2 separate regions of the Homo sapiens genome follow, and region 1 is linked to region 2. Evidence: fine-mapped expression QTL. A gene starts in region 2. The other region holds a variant in brackets. All regions are shown on one strand. Distances are from middle to middle. Region 1 overlaps KHSRP (KH-type splicing regulatory protein). Region 2 holds the start of SLC25A41 (solute carrier family 25 member 41).

Region 1 (8,265 bases), 23 kb after region 2:
GACTGTGTTGCAGGCGGCCTGGCTCTGGCAGGGACTGGTGGGGACGCGGGGAGCGGCCCAGGCCCCTGCCCCGCCGGGCTCAGCCTCCCATGCGCTCGCGCTTGCCTGTGTCCCGGGCTTGTCTGTGAAGTGGGCGTGAAGATCGTTGCCACCTTCCAACCTACCTCACAGGGGTGTTGTGGGGACACCATGATCTCTGGATTGTTCATGTCGTCGTGCTGCGCCGGGAGCCACCGCCCTCCGGAGACAGGGCAGCTCCCCTACGACCCTAGCGCCTCCGCCCTCCGCGGCCCCTCTCCTCTCTTCCTGCTCTGTCCCTCCTTCTCCATCAGGGAGCAGCGTGACTTCAGCGAGTCCCGCGAGCACCTGGCTAGACAGTTAACAAGCACGTCCTTCCAGCCTGAGCCAGCGCAGGTTTGGGAGGGGGCTTCCTGGCCCCCCCCACGGTGTTCCAGCCCCTCCTCTCTTCCGCCCCCTAGTCTCCCACCCTTCCCTCCCCGTAGTGACCAATTCCTATCTCTTCCCTCTCCGCAGGCTCAATGAATCGAATGAATGTGAACTTCTTCATCTGTGAAAAATCTTTTTTTTTTCCATTTTGTTCTGTTTGGGGGCTTCTGTTTTGTTTGGCGAGAGAGCGATGGCTGCCGTGGGGAGTACTGGGGAGCCCTCGCGGCAAGCAGGGTGGGGGGGACTTGGGGGCATGCCGGGCCCTCACTCTCTCGCCTGTTCTGTGTCTCACATGCTTTTTCTTTCAAAATTGGGATCCTTCCATGTTGAGCCAGCCAGAGAAGATAGCGAGATCTAAATCTCTGCCAAAAAAAAAAAAAAACTTAAAAATTAAAAACACAAAGAGCAAAGCAGAACTTATAAAATTATATATATATATATTAAAAAGTCTCTATTCTTCACCCCCCAGCCTTCCTGAACCTGCCTCTCTGAGGATAAAGCAATTCATTTTCTCCCACCCTCGGCCCTCTTGTTTTTAAAATAAACTTTTAAAAAGGAAAAAAAAAAGTCACTCTTGCTATTTCTTTTTTTTAGTTAGAGGTGGAACATTCCTTGGACCAGGTGTTGTATTGCAGGACCCCTTCCCCCAGCAGCCAAGCCCCCTCTTCTCTCCCTCCCGCCCTGGCTCAGCTCCCGCGGCCCCGCCCGTCCCCCCTCCCAGGACTGGTCTGTTGTCTTTTCATCTGTTCAAGAGGAGATTGAAACTGAAAACAAAATGAGAACAACAAAAAAAATTGTATGGCAGTTTTTACTTTTTATCGCTCGTTTTTAACTTCACAAATAAATGATAACAAAACCTCCCCGTCTGCGGGTGCTGTCTGTCTCCCCCCCTTTCCTTCCCTCCCTGTAGTTTTGAAGCGGATGTTTGTTCTTTATAGATGTTGTTTAAAAAGCCTGATAATGGTGATTGAAATTTACAAACTTTGTGTTTTTTTTTTTTTAAGAAAAATATAAAATAGTTTTCTTCAGGCTCAATGTGCTTTCCTAACCGTGCCCCCCCCCCTTTTTTTTTTTTGTTAAATAAAGTGCTTTTTGTTTAAAAAAGACTGCGTGCTGGCCGCAGTTGTGTTTGTGAGAGGAAACAAGTTGAGCAAGTCTCAGCCAATTAGAGTGGGGTGTGGCCCCCCAAGACTTTCCCCTTCCCATGTGGGAAGGGGAGGCTGGCTGAGCCCAGCACTGCTGTCTTCCCCTACCCAGTTTCCCTCCAGCACCTTGGGGAGCAAGGCGCTCAGGAGGGCCTCAGGGACCGGCGTTCCCATGGATGGGCTGTTGCTACAGGAGGTCCTCTGGCCTGTTAACGTTCAGAGCCCTGAGGTGGGAGCCAGGCCCGCGTCAGTGCTCGCTGGGTGATGGGACCGGATGTGAGGTGGGAGAGGGCACCGAGGGGCCACCCAAGCTGTTTGGACCTGGGCAGGTGTCTTGCAGCCCCGCATGCAGCTGCAGGGTCTCTGAGGTTGTGGCTGAATGCCAGCGTTTAAAACTCGCTTCATCTTAGATGTCCTGGGCTCATGGGCCTGGTGATAGCCCCGGCAGGAGCCAGTAACAGCTGTGGCCTCTAGGGGGGGCTGTTGACAGTCCCCTGACCCATGCAGGTGTGCCAGGCACCTGGCCCAGTGGGGCATGTTCCTTGGTGGCCCCTGGCCAACCTCCCTGGTGGGGAAACAGACCCCGGGAAAGGGAACCTGTTGCTCTGGAATCACAGGGGGCATCGGTCCCCCTTTCTGGAGGTCTCACCTCCTAGGTACGCACCCTTCCCACGTACTGCACGGGTTCCGGTGAGGGGCAAGGCCCACCCCCAGCCCCTCTGTCTCACTGCAGACTCTCAATGACAGAGCAGCACTTGGCAAAGATGTTCTCTGGTGCTGCTTCTGCCGGGATCTAGAGAAAGGGGAGCCGCAGGGGTCAGGTCTGGGCCCCACGGCAGGGACACCACCCTCTCCCGCTCAGACCCTGGGAAAATCCCAGAGGCATGCACGTGAAGGGAGAGGGGACAGGGTCAGGAAAGCTTGTGTTGCTGACTGCTGTGTGAGGGCGTGCAGGGAGGCCCCACCAGTGTCCCATTGCCTTCCCACGTGAGCCAAGGCTGGGTTCTCAAGGCATTTCCTGGGGGAATGGGAATCCCCCAGGTTACCTGGTAGGAAAGCGAGGACCAGGCCCGGGTGACCCTGGACTGTTAAAGCCAGACTTGTTCCCTAGGGGTTGGGGTGCAGTGAGCCAGAAGCGGGGAGCACCTACGTTTCAGAGCAGGTTATTGCGCTGGTAGGTCAAGACCGGCTCACACAAGGTATAGTGCGTGTCCAAGCGCTGGTGGATGGCCAGCTCCGAGTCGTCTGCCCGGTGCTCCACCTGGCCCCAGTGTAGCACTCGTCGGAGCATCGTCTCCATGGAGCAGTCAAACACGATGACGACGCTGGGGGCCTGGCCCACCTAGGAACCCGAACAAGGGGGCTGGGTGTGGAGGGACCAGGCACAGTGGCTCCAGAACCCCGGCTTCCCCAGAAACCAGGTATCTAGGATTACGTGGGCAGGTAAGAAATAATCAGGCCACCCTGGTCTGTTTTATTTATTTATTTATTTATTTATTTATTTATTTATTTGGGCACGTAAGGAATAATCAGGCCACCCTGGTCTGTTTTATTTATTTATTTATTTATTTATTTATTTATTTATTTATTTATTGAGATGGAGTCCCACTCTGTCGCACAGGCTGGAGTGCAATAGCACGATCTCAGCTCACGGCAACCACCTCCTCCCAGGTTCAAGCAATTCTCCTGGCTCAGCCTCCCAAGTAGCTGGCATTACAGGTGCACACCACCACACCCAGCTGATTTTTGTACTTTTAGTAGAGACGGGATTTTGCCATGTTGGTCAGGCTAGTCTCGAACTCCTAACCTCAGGTGATCCTCCCGTCTTGGCCTCCCACAGTGCTGGGATTATAGGCGTGAGCCACCATGCCCAACCTTGTTTTATTTTTCTAGCTCAAGTTTTACGTATTTACTTTTTGGAGAGGACAGGACATTCACTGCCAAACACACACACACACACAGTGAAGCATCTCGCCATCTCCAACCACCCAGGGTCACTCTCCCTGGAGGCAGCCTAGTTACCTGCTCCTGTGTCTCCTTCGAAAGCTATGAGGCATGCACACTGCAAGCAAATATGGTTCTAATACTTTTTTCCTCCTCTTTTTTTTTTTTTTTTCCTTGAAACAGAGTCTTGCTCTGTCAACCAGGCTGGAGTGCGGTGGCGCGATCTCGGCTCGCCGCAACCTCCGTCTCCCAGGTTCAAGCAATTCTCCTGCCTCAGCTTCCCAAGTAGCTGGGATTACAGGCAGCCACCACCACGCCCAGCTAATTTTTGTATTTTTAGTAGGAACGGGGTTTCGCCATGTTGGCCAGGGTAGTCTCGAACTCCTGAGCTCAGGTGATCTGCCCACCTCAGCCTCCCAAAGTGCTGGGATTACAGGCATGAGCCACCGCGCCC[A/G]GCCTAAAAAGTAAAATATTCTTAAGTGACTCAAAAGGATACTTGCACAGAAGGATCAGATATATATTCTTGGATAGAAAGACTCAACATTATAAAGGAGCTGAGTCTTCCCAAACTAGTTTATAATTGTCATGTGATCCAAATGTGATGCAATGGCCAAGCATGATGGCTCACGCCTGTAATCCCAGCACTTTGGGAGGCTGAGGTGGGTGGATCACTTGAGGTGAGGAGTTCCAGCCCAACCTGGCCAACACAGTGAAACCCCATCTCTACTAAAAATACGAAAATTATCCGGGCGTGGTGGTGCACGCCTATAGTCCCAGCAACTCGGGAGGCTGAAGCAGGAGAATCGCTTGAACCCGGGAGGCAGAGGTTGCAGTGAGCAGAGATCACACCACTGCACTCCAGCCTGGGCAACACAGCAAGACTCTGCCTCAAAAAAAAAGAAAAGAAAAGAAGAAAGGAAAAAGCCAACAACCTGTCAGAAAAAAAAAAAAAATATATATATATATATATATAGAGAGAGAGAGAGAGAGAAAGAGTTTACTGAAGAAGACAACAAAACACCTTTCAAACTTTTTGTATTTTTAGAGACAGGGTCTCACTCTGTTGCCTGGGCTGGAGTGTAGTGGCAAGATCATAGCTCACTGCAGCCCTGAACTCCTGGGCTCAAGCGATCTCCCACCTCAGCCTCCTGAATAGCTAGGACTACAGGTATGTGTCCCTGTGCCCAGCTTGGCCCTTAAACTTTGCAAAAGATATTAAAACTCAATTGTAGCCAGAGAAATGCTCATTACAACCACACTGAAATACCACTTCTCACCTACACAGGTTGACAAAAATCCAAAACCTTGGCAGCATGTTCTGTAGGTCTCACTGTAAATGTAAAATGAAGAGGAATCTGGTGATGGCTAGCAAAATTATGCATTTCTCTTTAATCCAGCAATTCCACTCCTAATCTATTTCAAGGATACTAGCAAAAAGGTGAAATGACATGCAAAGGTTATTATTTAATGTGGCATTGTCTGTAGTGGCAAAGGATTGAAAGTAATTTATTGCCCATAGGAGATTAGCTGAATATACAATGGCGTGGCCACACAATGGAATACTACACAGCTGTAAAAAAAGAAACAAGGAATATCTCTTGACACTGATGTGAGATATTCTGGATGGATATATGGCAAAGTTAAAAAAAACAAAAAAACAGGCTGGCATGGTGGCTCAGGCCTGTCATCCCAGCACTTAGGGAGGCCGAGGCGGGCAGATCGTTTGAGGTCACGAGTTTGAGACCAGCCTGGCCAACATGGTGAAACCCCGTCTCTATTAAAAATATAAAAATTATCCTGGCATGGTGGTGCACGCCTGCAGACCCAGCTACTCAGGAGACTGAAGCAGGAGAATCGCTTGACCCAGGAAGCAGAGATTTCAGTGAGCCAAGATGACACCACTGCACTCCAGTCTGGACAACAGAGAAAAGAAGTTGATGTAATGAAATACTGCAAACGCACACAGAAGAGGATAGCGTGAGGAATCCCCAGACAGCCAGGTCTAACCATTGTTGTATCTGTGCCCAAACCTCTTGTGAATGCTGGTTATGGGTTTTTGGGTTTTTTTCAGACAAGGTCTACTTTTGTCACCCAGGCTAGATAGAGTGCAGTGGCGTGACCATAGCTCACTGGGGCCTTGAACTACCCAACTCAAGTGATCCTCCCGCCTCAGCCTTCTGAGTGGGGGGGAAAAAAAAGGATACAAGGTCATTTGAAATAATTATTTTCTGACTGGGCACGGTGGCTCACGCCTGTAATCCCAGCACTTTGGGAGGCCAAGATGGGCAGATCACTTGAGGTCAGGAGTTCGAGACCAGCCTAACCAACATGGTGAAACCCCATCTCTACTAAAAATACAAAATTAGCTGGGTGTGGTGGTGCGTGCCTTTAATCCCAGCTACTTGGGAGGCTGAGGCAGGAGAATCGCTTGAACCCAGGAAGCGGAGGTTGCAGTGAGCCCAGATTGTGCCATTGCACTCCAGCCTGAGTGACAGAGCAAGACTCCATATAAAAAGATATATATATATATTTTCTGTGTAATTAAGGAATGCAATAGATACATAGTTGGGTCATTTGTTTCAGTTAGGTTTCATTATGTAGGGTTGCCTGGCCAACCCTGTATTTTTATTATGGTGCATCTATAGTGGGATAGAGTTGGTCCTCCATATGCGTGAGTTCTGCATCTGTGAATTCAACTAACCTCAGACTGAAAATATTTGGATGCCGGGCGCAGTAGCTCACGCTTGTAATCTCAGCACTTTGGGAGGACAAGGTGGGCAGATCACTTGAGGCCAGGAGTTCGAGACCAGCCTGGCCAACATGGTGAAACCCCATCTCTACTAAAAATACAAAAAATTAGCCGGGTGTGGTAGTAATCTCAGCTACTCGGGATGCTGAGGCAGGAGAATCGCTTGAACCCAGGAGGCGGAGGTTGCAGTGAGCCGAGATCGCGCCATTGCGCTCCAGCCTGGGCAACAAAAGGGAAATTCTGTCTCAAAAAAGAAAAAAGAAAAGAAAATATTTGGAAAACAAGTTGCCTCTGTATTGAACATGTATAGACTTTTTTTTTTTTTTTTTAAGACAGGGTCTGGTTTTTTTCCCCATACCTCACAATGTCCAAAATAAAATTCTTTTTTTTATTTGTTTGAGACAGGGTCTTGCTGAAGTACAGTGGCGCAATCATAGCTCACTGTAGCCTCAAACTCCTGGGCTCAAGCGATCTCACCTCACTCTCCTGAGTAGCTGGGACCACAGGCGTGGGCCACCTTGCCCAGCCCAGAATTTTTTCCTTGTCATTATTCCCTAAGCAATACACTATAACAACTATTTACATAACATTTACATTGTTTTAGGTATTACAAGTAATCTAGAGATGACTTACAGTATATGAGAGGGTGATCATAGGTTCTATGCAAATACTATGCTATTTTATTATTTAACTCTTTGAATATGTAATTTATTTAGAGATGGGGTCTCACTATGTTGCCCAGGCCGGCCTCAAACTCCTGAGCTCCCACTTCGGCCTCCCAAAGTGCTGGGATTACAGGTGTGATTACCGTACCTGGCCACTACTGTGTTATTGTATATCAGAAATGTGAGCAGCCAGGTGTGGTGCCTCACGCCTGTAATCCCAGCACTTTGGGAGGCCGAGGTGGGTGGATCGCCTGAGGTCAGGAGTTCAAGACCAGCCTGGCCAACATGGAGAAACCCTGTCTCTACTAAAAATACAAAATTAGCCGGGCATGGTGCCACATGCTTATAATCCCAGCTACTCAGGAGGCTGAGGCAGGAGAATTGCTTGAACCCGGGATGCGGAGGTTGTAGTGAGAAGAGATCACGCCACTACACTCCAGCCTGGCGACAGAGCGAGACCCTGTCTCAAAAACAAACAAACAAAAAAACTTCAGCATCCATGGATTTTGGTATCTGAGACAGATCCTGGAACCAATCCCCCATGGATACAGAGGACCTACATATTAAAGGAAAACGAGGCCAAGCACGGTGGCTCACGCCTGTAATCCCAGCACTTTGGGAGGCCAAGGCGGGTGGATCACCTGAGGTCAGGAGTTTGAGACCAGCCTGGCCAACATGACGAAATCCCATTTCTATTAAAAATACAAAAATTATCCAGAGATCGCTTGAACCTGGGAGGCAGAGGTTGCAGTGAGCCGAGATCATGCCACTGCACTCCAGCCTGGACAAAGGACAAGACTCTGTCTCAAAAAAGAAAACTAAAATAAATAAATAATAATAATAAAGGAAAATGAGAGCTATAAAGAAATCTTAAACTTCCTTTTCTAATTTTATTCTTTTATTTATTGTTTTGACCCAATAATTGTACATGTGTATAGGGTACATAGTGATGTTTCAACACATATAGTTTTATTCTTAGTAGTTAATGTTGGCATATTGTTTTCAAACTATTTGGTATCTAATGGTATGATGCAAATGAGTATGTTAGTGGTATTAAGAACCAAAATTTTTAGGGAAAGAGAAAAGGGAAGGAACAACACTGTAAGTGTCACGTGAACGTGAAATATCAGAATGAACTTGTGATTTCTTTTTCTCTTTCAAGAGTATGTGTTTCTTAGCTCTGTTCACTGGGAAGATCCAGAAACGATGACAACCCAATAGCAACGAGTATTCTTTGAACCCTAATTTTGCACCACGAAAAGGGCTTCTGGAAAAGACCCATTCCAGGACTGAGCAAGAAATGTAAAAAGTGGGA
Region 2 (8,328 bases):
AACTCCTGACCTCAAGTGATCCACCCGCCTCGGCCTCCCAAAGTGCAAATTCCAAGTTTGTTTTTTTTTTTTTTTTTGGAGTGCAGTGGCACGATCTCGGCTCACTGCAAGCTCCGCCTCCCGGGTTCATGCCATTCTCTTGCCTCAGCCTCCCAAGTAGCTGGGACTACAGGCACCCGCCACCACAGCCAGCTAATTTTTTTTTTTTTTTGTATTTTTAGTAGAGATGGGGTTTCACCATGTTAGCCAGGATGCCTCCCAAAGTGCTGGGATTATAGGCATGAGCCACCGCGCCCGGCCTTTTTTTTTTTCTGAGATGGAGTCTTGCTCTGTCGCCTAGGCTGGAGTGCACTGGCGCGATCTTGGCTCACTGCAAGCTCCGCCTCCTGGGTTCATGCCATTCTCCTGCCTCAGCCTCCCAAGTAGCTGGGACTACAGGCACCCGCCACCATGCCCAGCTAATTTTTTGTATTTTTAGTAGAGACGGGGTTTCACCATGTTAGCCAGGATGGTCTTGAACTCCTGACCTCGTGATCCGCCTGCCTCAGCCTCCCAAAGTGTTGGGATTACAGGCGTGAGCCACTGCGCCTGGCCGATTCCATGTCTTGTAAGGACAGCAGTCATCGGATTAGGGCAACCCCCCCCAATCCAGTGTAACCTCATTTTAATTTGATTATATCTACAAAGACCGTATTTCCAAATAAGGTCACATTTGCAGGTTACTGGGGTTAGGGCTTGAACACATCTTTTTGGGGGACAAAGTTCAACCCACAATGAGTAATTCAAATTTATTGTGGAAAAAATAGAAAATTCAGGGTGGGTGGGGTAGCTCATATCTGTAAACCCAGCACTTTGGGAGGTCGGGGTGGGAGGATCGCTTGAGGCCAGGAGTTTGAGACCAGCCTGGGCAACACAGTGAGACCCCATTTCTACAAAAAATTTTTCAATTAGCTGGGCATGATGGCATATACCTGTAGTTCCAGCTGCTCAGGAGGCTGAGATGGGAGGATGACTTGAGCTCAGGAGTTCAAGGTCACTTGAGCCCAGGAGTTTGAGACCAGCCTGGCCAACATGGTGAAACCCCGTCTCTACTAAAAATACAAAAATTAGCCGGGCATGGTGTCACATGCCTGTGATCCCAGCTACTCGGAAGGCTGAGGCAGGACAATCACTTGAACCCAGGAGGTGGAGGTTGCAGTGAGCCAAGATTGGTCCATTGCACTCCAGCCTGGGTAACAGAGCAAGACTCCATCTCAAAAAATAAAAAAATAAAAGATTGGGTGCAGTGGCTCACGTCTATAATCCTAGCATTTTGGGAGGCCGAGGCGGGTGAATCACCTGAGGTCAGGAGTTCGAGACCAGCCTGGCCAACATGGCAACCCCGTCTCTACTAGAAGTACAAAAATTAGCCGGACGTGGTGGCGGGCACCTATAATCCCAGCTACTCAGGAGGCTGAGGCAGGAGAATTGCTTGAACCTGGGTGGCAGAGGTTGCAGTGAGTCGAGATTGTGCCACTGCACTCCAGCCTGGGCAACAAGAGCAAAACTATGTCTCAAAGAAAAAAAAAAAAAGACACTGTCGCTGCCATCCTGGTTATTGGTTACATGCTCTCTCTCTCTCTCTCCCCCTTTCTCATAACATTTGCTCTGGAGGAAGCCGGTGGTCATGCCATGAGCAGCCTTATGGAGAGGACCATGTGGTAAGGAACTCAGCCAATAGCCATGTAACTGAGCTTGGAAGAGGATCTTGCTGTCCTGGCCAACATCTCACTGCAATTCTATCAGTTGAATTCCCTGGATAGTCCAAGCTTTGTGGATCCCTCCACCGAAACAACTGGATCCCAGTACCTGAATCCTGAATCTTAGACTCTTATACTTCAAACACTGATCACGGGAACAGCCGGCTCAGCGGCTCCTGAGTTCCTAATGCTCAGAATATGGGTGAGATGATAAATGTTTGTTGTGTTAAGCTGCCAACCTTTGGCGGGGGGGTAATTCGTCACATGGCAACAGCTGGCTAATACATATATACCTACATGTATATGATTTTGTCAGGTTTTTTGTTTGTTTGTTTGTTTGGTTTCGGTTTTGGTTTTTGAAACAGGGTTTCACTCTGTCCCCTCCCCAGGCTGGAATGCAGGGGTGCAATCATGGCTCACTGCAGCTTCAAACTCCCAGGCTCAGGTGATGCTCCCATCTCAGCCTCCGGAGTAGCTGGGACCACAGGCACACACCACCATGCCTGACTACTTTTTTTGTTTTTTAGAGACTGGGTCTTACTCTGTCACCCAGGCTGGAGTGCAGTGGCACAATCATAGCTCACTGCAGCCTCTAATTCCTGTGCTCAAGGGAGCCTCCCCCTTCAGCCTCCCAAGTAGCTGGGACTACAGGTGCACATGACCACACCTGGCTAATTTTAAAAAATTTTTGTAGAAAAATTTCTTGCTTTGCTGCCCAGGCTGGTCTTGAACTCCTGGACTCAAGTGATCCTCCCGCCTCAGCCTCCTGAGTAGCTGGGATTACAGGTATGCACCACCACACCCAGCTAATTTTCGTTATTTTTAGTAGACACGGGGTTTTATCATGTTGGCCAGGCTGGTCTCAAACTCCTGACCTCAGGTGATCCACCTGCCTTGGCCTCCCAAAGTGCTAGAATTACAGGTGTGAGCCACCACGCCCAGCCAAAAATAATTTTTAAAACTTAGCCGGGCGTGGTGTCCGCACCTGTGTTCCTAGCCACTCGGGTGGCTGAAGTGGGAGAACCACCTGAACAGAGAGGTCAAGGGGATTGACCTTAAGTGTGCCACTATACTCCAGCCTGGGTGACAGAGTGAGACCATTTCCCATCAGCTGTTTAGCAACCTTAATTCTTTTTTTTTTTTTCTTTTTTTTTTTTTTGAGACAGGGTCTCGCTCTGTCACCCAGGCTGGAGTTCAGTGGCAAGATCTCAGCTCACTGCAGCCTCCACCTCCCAAGCTCAAGCAACCCTCCCACCTCAGCCTCCTGTGTAGCTGGGACCACAGGCATGGACCACCATGCCCAGCTAATTTTTGTATTTTTTATAGAGACAGGGGTCTGGCCATGTTGCCCAGGGTGGTCTTGAACTCCTGGGCTCAAGTGATCCACCTGCCTTGACCTCCCAAAGTGCTGCTATTATAGGAATGAGCCACGGCGCCCAGCCTAGCAAAGTTTTGTTGTTGTTGTTGTTTGTTTGAGATGGAGTCTCGCTCTGTTGCCCAGGCTGCAGTGCAATGGCTCAATCTCGGCCCACTGCAACCTCTGTCTCCTGGGTTCAAGCAATTCTCCTGTCTCAGCCTCCAGAGTAGCTGAGATTACAGGGGCACACCACCAAACCTGGCTAATTTTTGTATTTTTAGGAGAGACTGGGTTTCACTATGTTAGTCAGGCTGGTCTCGAACTCCTGACCTCAGATGATCTGCCAACCTCGGCCTCCCAAAGTGCTGGGATTACAGGCGTCAGCCACCACATCAGGCCTAGCAACCTTATTTGTATCTGCAAACTTAATTCCCCTTTGCCATGTAACAAATGTAAGTCAGCCCAGGCTGCTATAAGGAAACACTAAAGAGCGGGGTCTTAAACTGCAGACATTTATTTCTGGAGGCTGGGAAATCCAAGGTTAAGGTGGCTGGCTAGCTCAGTTCCTGCTGAGGGATTTCTTCCTGCCATGCCTTCTTGCTGCGTCCTCCCATGGCAGACAGAGAGAGAGAAAGAGCTCTGGTTTGTCTTTTCCTTATAGGGAACTAATTCCATCTTGCAGGGGCCATCCTCATGAGTTCATCTAACCCTGAGGACCTCCCAAAGGCCCTGTCTCCAAATTCCAACCCACTGGGAAATAGGGCTTCAACATAAGAATTTTGCGGCCGGAAGCAGTGGCTCACGCCTGTAATCCCAGCACTTTGGGAGGCTGAGGTGGGCAGATCATGAGGTCAGGAGATCGAGACCATCCTGGCTAACACGGTGAAACCCCGTCTCTACTAAAAAATAAAAAAATTAGCTGGGCGTGGTGGCGGATGCCTGTAGTCCCAGCTACTCGGGAGGCTGAGGCAGGAGAATGGTGTGAACCCCAGAGGCGGAGCTTGCAGTGAGCCAAGATAGCGCCACTGCACTCCAGCCTGGGAGACTGAGCGAGACTCCGTCTCAAAAAAAACGATAATAATAATAATTTTGACAGGACACAATTCAATTTATAACGATAACATATTTATTGGTTTGGGGGATCAGGAGGTGGATACTTGGGGGAAGGGGGCCATCACGCTGCCCACCACACCTAGGAAGGTCACAGGGGCGTTTGTGACTTCATCCTCCTCTTGGTCCCCCACACAATCCTCCCACTAGACACTCCCGCATGGTAGCTGGAGCAGCAAACAACTGCTTAGGGATTTGAAGCCAGGTGTCCTAACTTCCTCCATGGGCGCTCAGCCTGGGGAACCTCAGAACACTTGCTCTAGGATCCAGACACTGTTTAGGAGGGTCAAGACCTTACTCATCAAAGCCCCGCCTCCCCCCCAACCTCCGCCTCCACCCCCATCCTGGAACCCTGGCTGTACACACGTGTATGGGTACGCGTTTGGCCACATGCATGACAACAACCTTGAACATCTCCCGTCACAGCAGGTGAGTTTAGGAAACACCAGTGTCCCGGCACCTCTGGTCAGGACTACAGGGAGAGGCCAGGCTACCCACGCCCTCTACAGGCCCACTCCCCTGCTAGCGGACCTAGAATTCCACCTTGAAGCAGGGTGGGGCAGGGAGGCAGGGCGCGATGGCTCCACACATGTAATCCCAGCACTTTGGGAGGTTGAGGTGGATGGGTCACTTGAGGACAGGAGTTCAAGACCAACCTGGCCAACATGCCGAAACCCTATCTCTACTAAAATTACAAAACTTAGCCAGGCATGGTGGTTGGCGCCTGTAGTACCAGCTACTCAGGAGGCTGAGGCAGGAGAATCGCTTGAACTCAGGAGGTAGAGGTTGCAGTGAGCCCAGATCTCATCACTGCACTCAAGCCAGAGCAACACAGCGAGATTCTGTCTCAAAAAATAAGAATAAATTAAGAGTCTAGATATAGTCCTAATTACATTTGTATTCCTCCTTGGATCCTCCATGAGTAACTTAGAGAGTCTATATTACATTGGCTGGGTGTGGTGGCTCACACCTGTAATCCCAGCACTTTGGGAGGCTGAGGCAGGTGGATCACCTGAGGTCAGGAGTTCAAGACCAGCCTGGCCAACATGGTGAAACCCTGCCTCTATTAAAATAATACAAAAATTTGCTCGGCACGTTGGCACTGTAATCCCAGCTACTGGGGAGGCTGAGGCAAGAGAATCACTTGAACCCAGGAGGCGGAGGTTGCAGTGAGCCGAGATCACACCATTGTCCCTACTTGGGAAGCTGAGACACGAGAATCGCTTGAACCAGGGGGACAGCGGTTGCAGTGAGCCAAGATCGCACCACTGTACTCCAGCTTGGGCGATAGAGTGAGACTCTGTCTAAAAAAAAACAAAAACAAAACAAAAAAAAACCAGGGGGGAGGGTTGAATCACTTGAGGTCAGGAGTTAGAGACCAGCCTGGCCAACATAGTGAAACCCATCTCTACTAAAAAAAAAAAAAAAAAAAAAAAAAAAAATTAGGTGTTGTGGTGCATGCCTATAATCCCAGCTACTCAGGAGGCTGCGGCAGGAACTGCTTGAACCTGGGAGGTGGAGGTTGCAACGAGCTGAGATTGTGCCACTGCACTCTAACCTGGGCAGCAGAGCAAGACTCCGTCTCGAAAAAAAAAAATGCAGACTTGGGGGAACAGGGTGGGTCTTTCACCAGGTGGGTGCCCTAGATGTGTGTCTGGGGAAGGTGCCCCAACCTGGCTGAGGATGAGGGAGGGCCGGGTCTGCCCTGCAGGTACTGGACACAGGAGAGCAGCTGATGGTCCCCGTGGAAGTCCTGGAAGTGGATAACAAGGAGGCCTTGTGGAAGTTTCTACTCTCAGGAGCTATGGCCGGGGCGGTGTCTCGCACGGGCACGGCACCTCTGGACAGAGCCAAGGTGTACATGCAGGTTTGTGTGGGTTGGGGGGAGGACGGGACCCAGCGCTGGAGCCACTGGGGAGAACGTGGGGTGAGGACAGATGGAGTTGACGTGGATGGAGTTCAGGATAGGAGTGCTGGCTGGAGTTGGGCTCTCCTGGACTAGCTGAGATTGAGGTTGTGGATGGTGATAGAGCTGGTGTGGACATGGCTTGGAGTCGAGTTTGAGGAGTTGAGAGAACTTGCCAGGGACAGGGACCAACGCTGGGCCAAGGTGGGGGTTGGAGGTCAGGGAATTGGGGATGGGGTCTTTGGACGAGTTTAAAGACAAGGTAGGGGCCAGGTGCAGTGGCTCATGCCTCTAATGCCAGCACTTTGGGAGGCCCAGGGGAGGTAGATCATCTGGGGTCAGGAGTTTGAGACCAGCCTGGCCAACATGGCGAAACCCTGTCTCTACTAAAAATACAAAAAAATTAGTCGGGCATGGTGGTGCGTGCCTGTAGTCCCAGCTACATAGGAGGCTGAGGCAGGAGAATTGCTTGAACCCAGGAGATGGAGGTTGCAGTGAGCCGAGATTGCATCACTGCACTCCAGCCTGGGCAACAGAGTGAGACTCTGTCTCAAAAAAGAAAGAAAAAAAAAAAAGGCAACATAGAACTGGAGCTACCTCAAGCAGGATATCTCACACCCATAGTCTCAGCTGCTCAGGAGGCTGAGGCAGGAGGATTGCTTGAGCCCAGGAGTTGGAGGCTGCAGTGAGCCATGATCATGCCACAAACTCCAGCCTGGGTGACAGAGCGAGATCCCTGGCTGAAAAAATAAACGGGTGCAGTGGCTCACTTTGGGAGGCCAAGGAGGGAGGATTACTTGAGCTTAGGAGTTTGAGACCAGCTGGGCAATATAGTCAGACCACATCTCTACAAAATAATAATTAATTAATTAATTAATTAAAAATTTAAAAAGGAGTCGGGCATGGTGACTCACACCTGTAATCCCAGCACTTTGGGAGGCCAAAGTGGGAAGATCGCTTGAGCCCAAGAGTTTGAGACCAGCCTGGGCAACATAGTAAGACCCCATCTATACAAAAAATTTTACAAAATTAGCCTGCCATGGTAGCACGCACCTGTAGTCCCAGCTACTTGGAAGGCTGAGGTGGGAGGATCACTTGAGCCCAGGAGTTTGGGGCTGCAGTGAGCTGTGATTGCACCACTGCATTCCGGCCTGGGCAACAGAACAAGATCCTGTCTCGAAAACATAAACAAACAAAAAAACAAGAAAGAAAAGGAAAAGAAGGCCAGGCGCGGTGGCTGATGCCTGTAATCCCAGCAATTTGGGGGGCCAAGGTGGGCAGATCACCTGAGGTCAGGAGTTCCAGACCAGCCTGGCCAACATGGCAAACCCCCAGCTCTACTAAAAATACAAAAATAAGCCAGGCGTGGTGACACTAGCCTGTAATCCCAGCTACTCGGGAGGCTGAGGCAGGAGAATCGCCTGAACCTGGGAGGCGGAGGTTGCAGTGAGCCGAGATCCCCCGACCGCACTCCAGCCTGGGCGACAGAGTGAGACTCCGTCAAAAAAAAAAAAAAAGAAGGAAGGGAGGAACGGAGGAAGGGAGGGAGGGAGGGAACAAAAAGGGAGAAAGAAAGGAAAGGATGGAAGGAAGAAAGAGAGAGAGAAAAAGACTGAGGAGATGAAGAGGAGGGGTGAGGTGGGAATGTAGGTTGATGTTGGCTTTGGGTCAGGGTTGCATGCGATTCTAGAACTGGCCGGGGAAGGAGCTGAAGAAGGAATGGGGATGGGATGGGGATGGGTTGGGGTTGGGTGGCTTGGGAGGTCCCGGTGGGGCTGCGCTTGGGGCAGGGATGGGGACGGAGACAGAGGCGAGCAGGGGCTCCTCCAGGGTCCTCCCTCCACCCAGGTCTACTCCTCCAAGACGAACTTCACCAACCTGCTGGGGGGGCTACAGAGCATGGTCCAGGAGGGCGGCTTCCGCTCCCTGTGGCGGGGCAACGGCATCAACGTGCTCAAGATTGCTCCTGAGTATGCCATCAAGTTCTCCGTATTCGAGCAGGTGGGGAATGAGGGGCCTGCTTCCCCCAGCTCAAGCCCAAACCCCTCCCATGCCCCCAAAACTCCAGGCCCTTGTTCAAGCACACACTCACCCTCCAGACCCCAGGCCTCTTCCCTGCGCGGGTTTTGTGTCGGAGGGTGGCTGACTTCTCTCTCACCCTCCTCTCTCCTCTCCCAGTGCAAGAATTACTTCTGTGGAATACAAGGGTCCCCGCC

The links. PIP is the estimated chance that this variant, and not a neighbour inherited with it, causes the effect.
Region 1: its variant is fine-mapped to the expression of SLC25A41 in whole blood (TOPMed, PIP above 0.99).

The regions. Positions count from the first base shown.
Region 1 is chr19:6,406,390-6,414,654 of GRCh38, reverse strand. KHSRP (KH-type splicing regulatory protein) reads left to right here. Exons shown (of 19, transcript NM_001366299.1): 19 at 1-1,553. It also overlaps the pseudogene LOC390877. Among named protein-coding and RNA genes, the nearest start is that of MIR3940, 6.0 kb to the left of the region's middle. RefSeq lists enhancers at 1,309-2,133, 2,134-2,958. The variant A/G (reference allele first, on the strand shown) is at 3,991.
Region 2 is chr19:6,429,794-6,438,121 of GRCh38, reverse strand. It overlaps SLC25A41 (solute carrier family 25 member 41), which reads left to right and starts at 4,359. Exons shown (of 7, transcript NM_173637.4): 1 at 4,359-4,635; 2 at 5,918-6,073; 3 at 7,961-8,113; 4 at 8,291-8,328. The coding sequence starts at 4,429. It also overlaps a transcript of SLC25A23 not described here.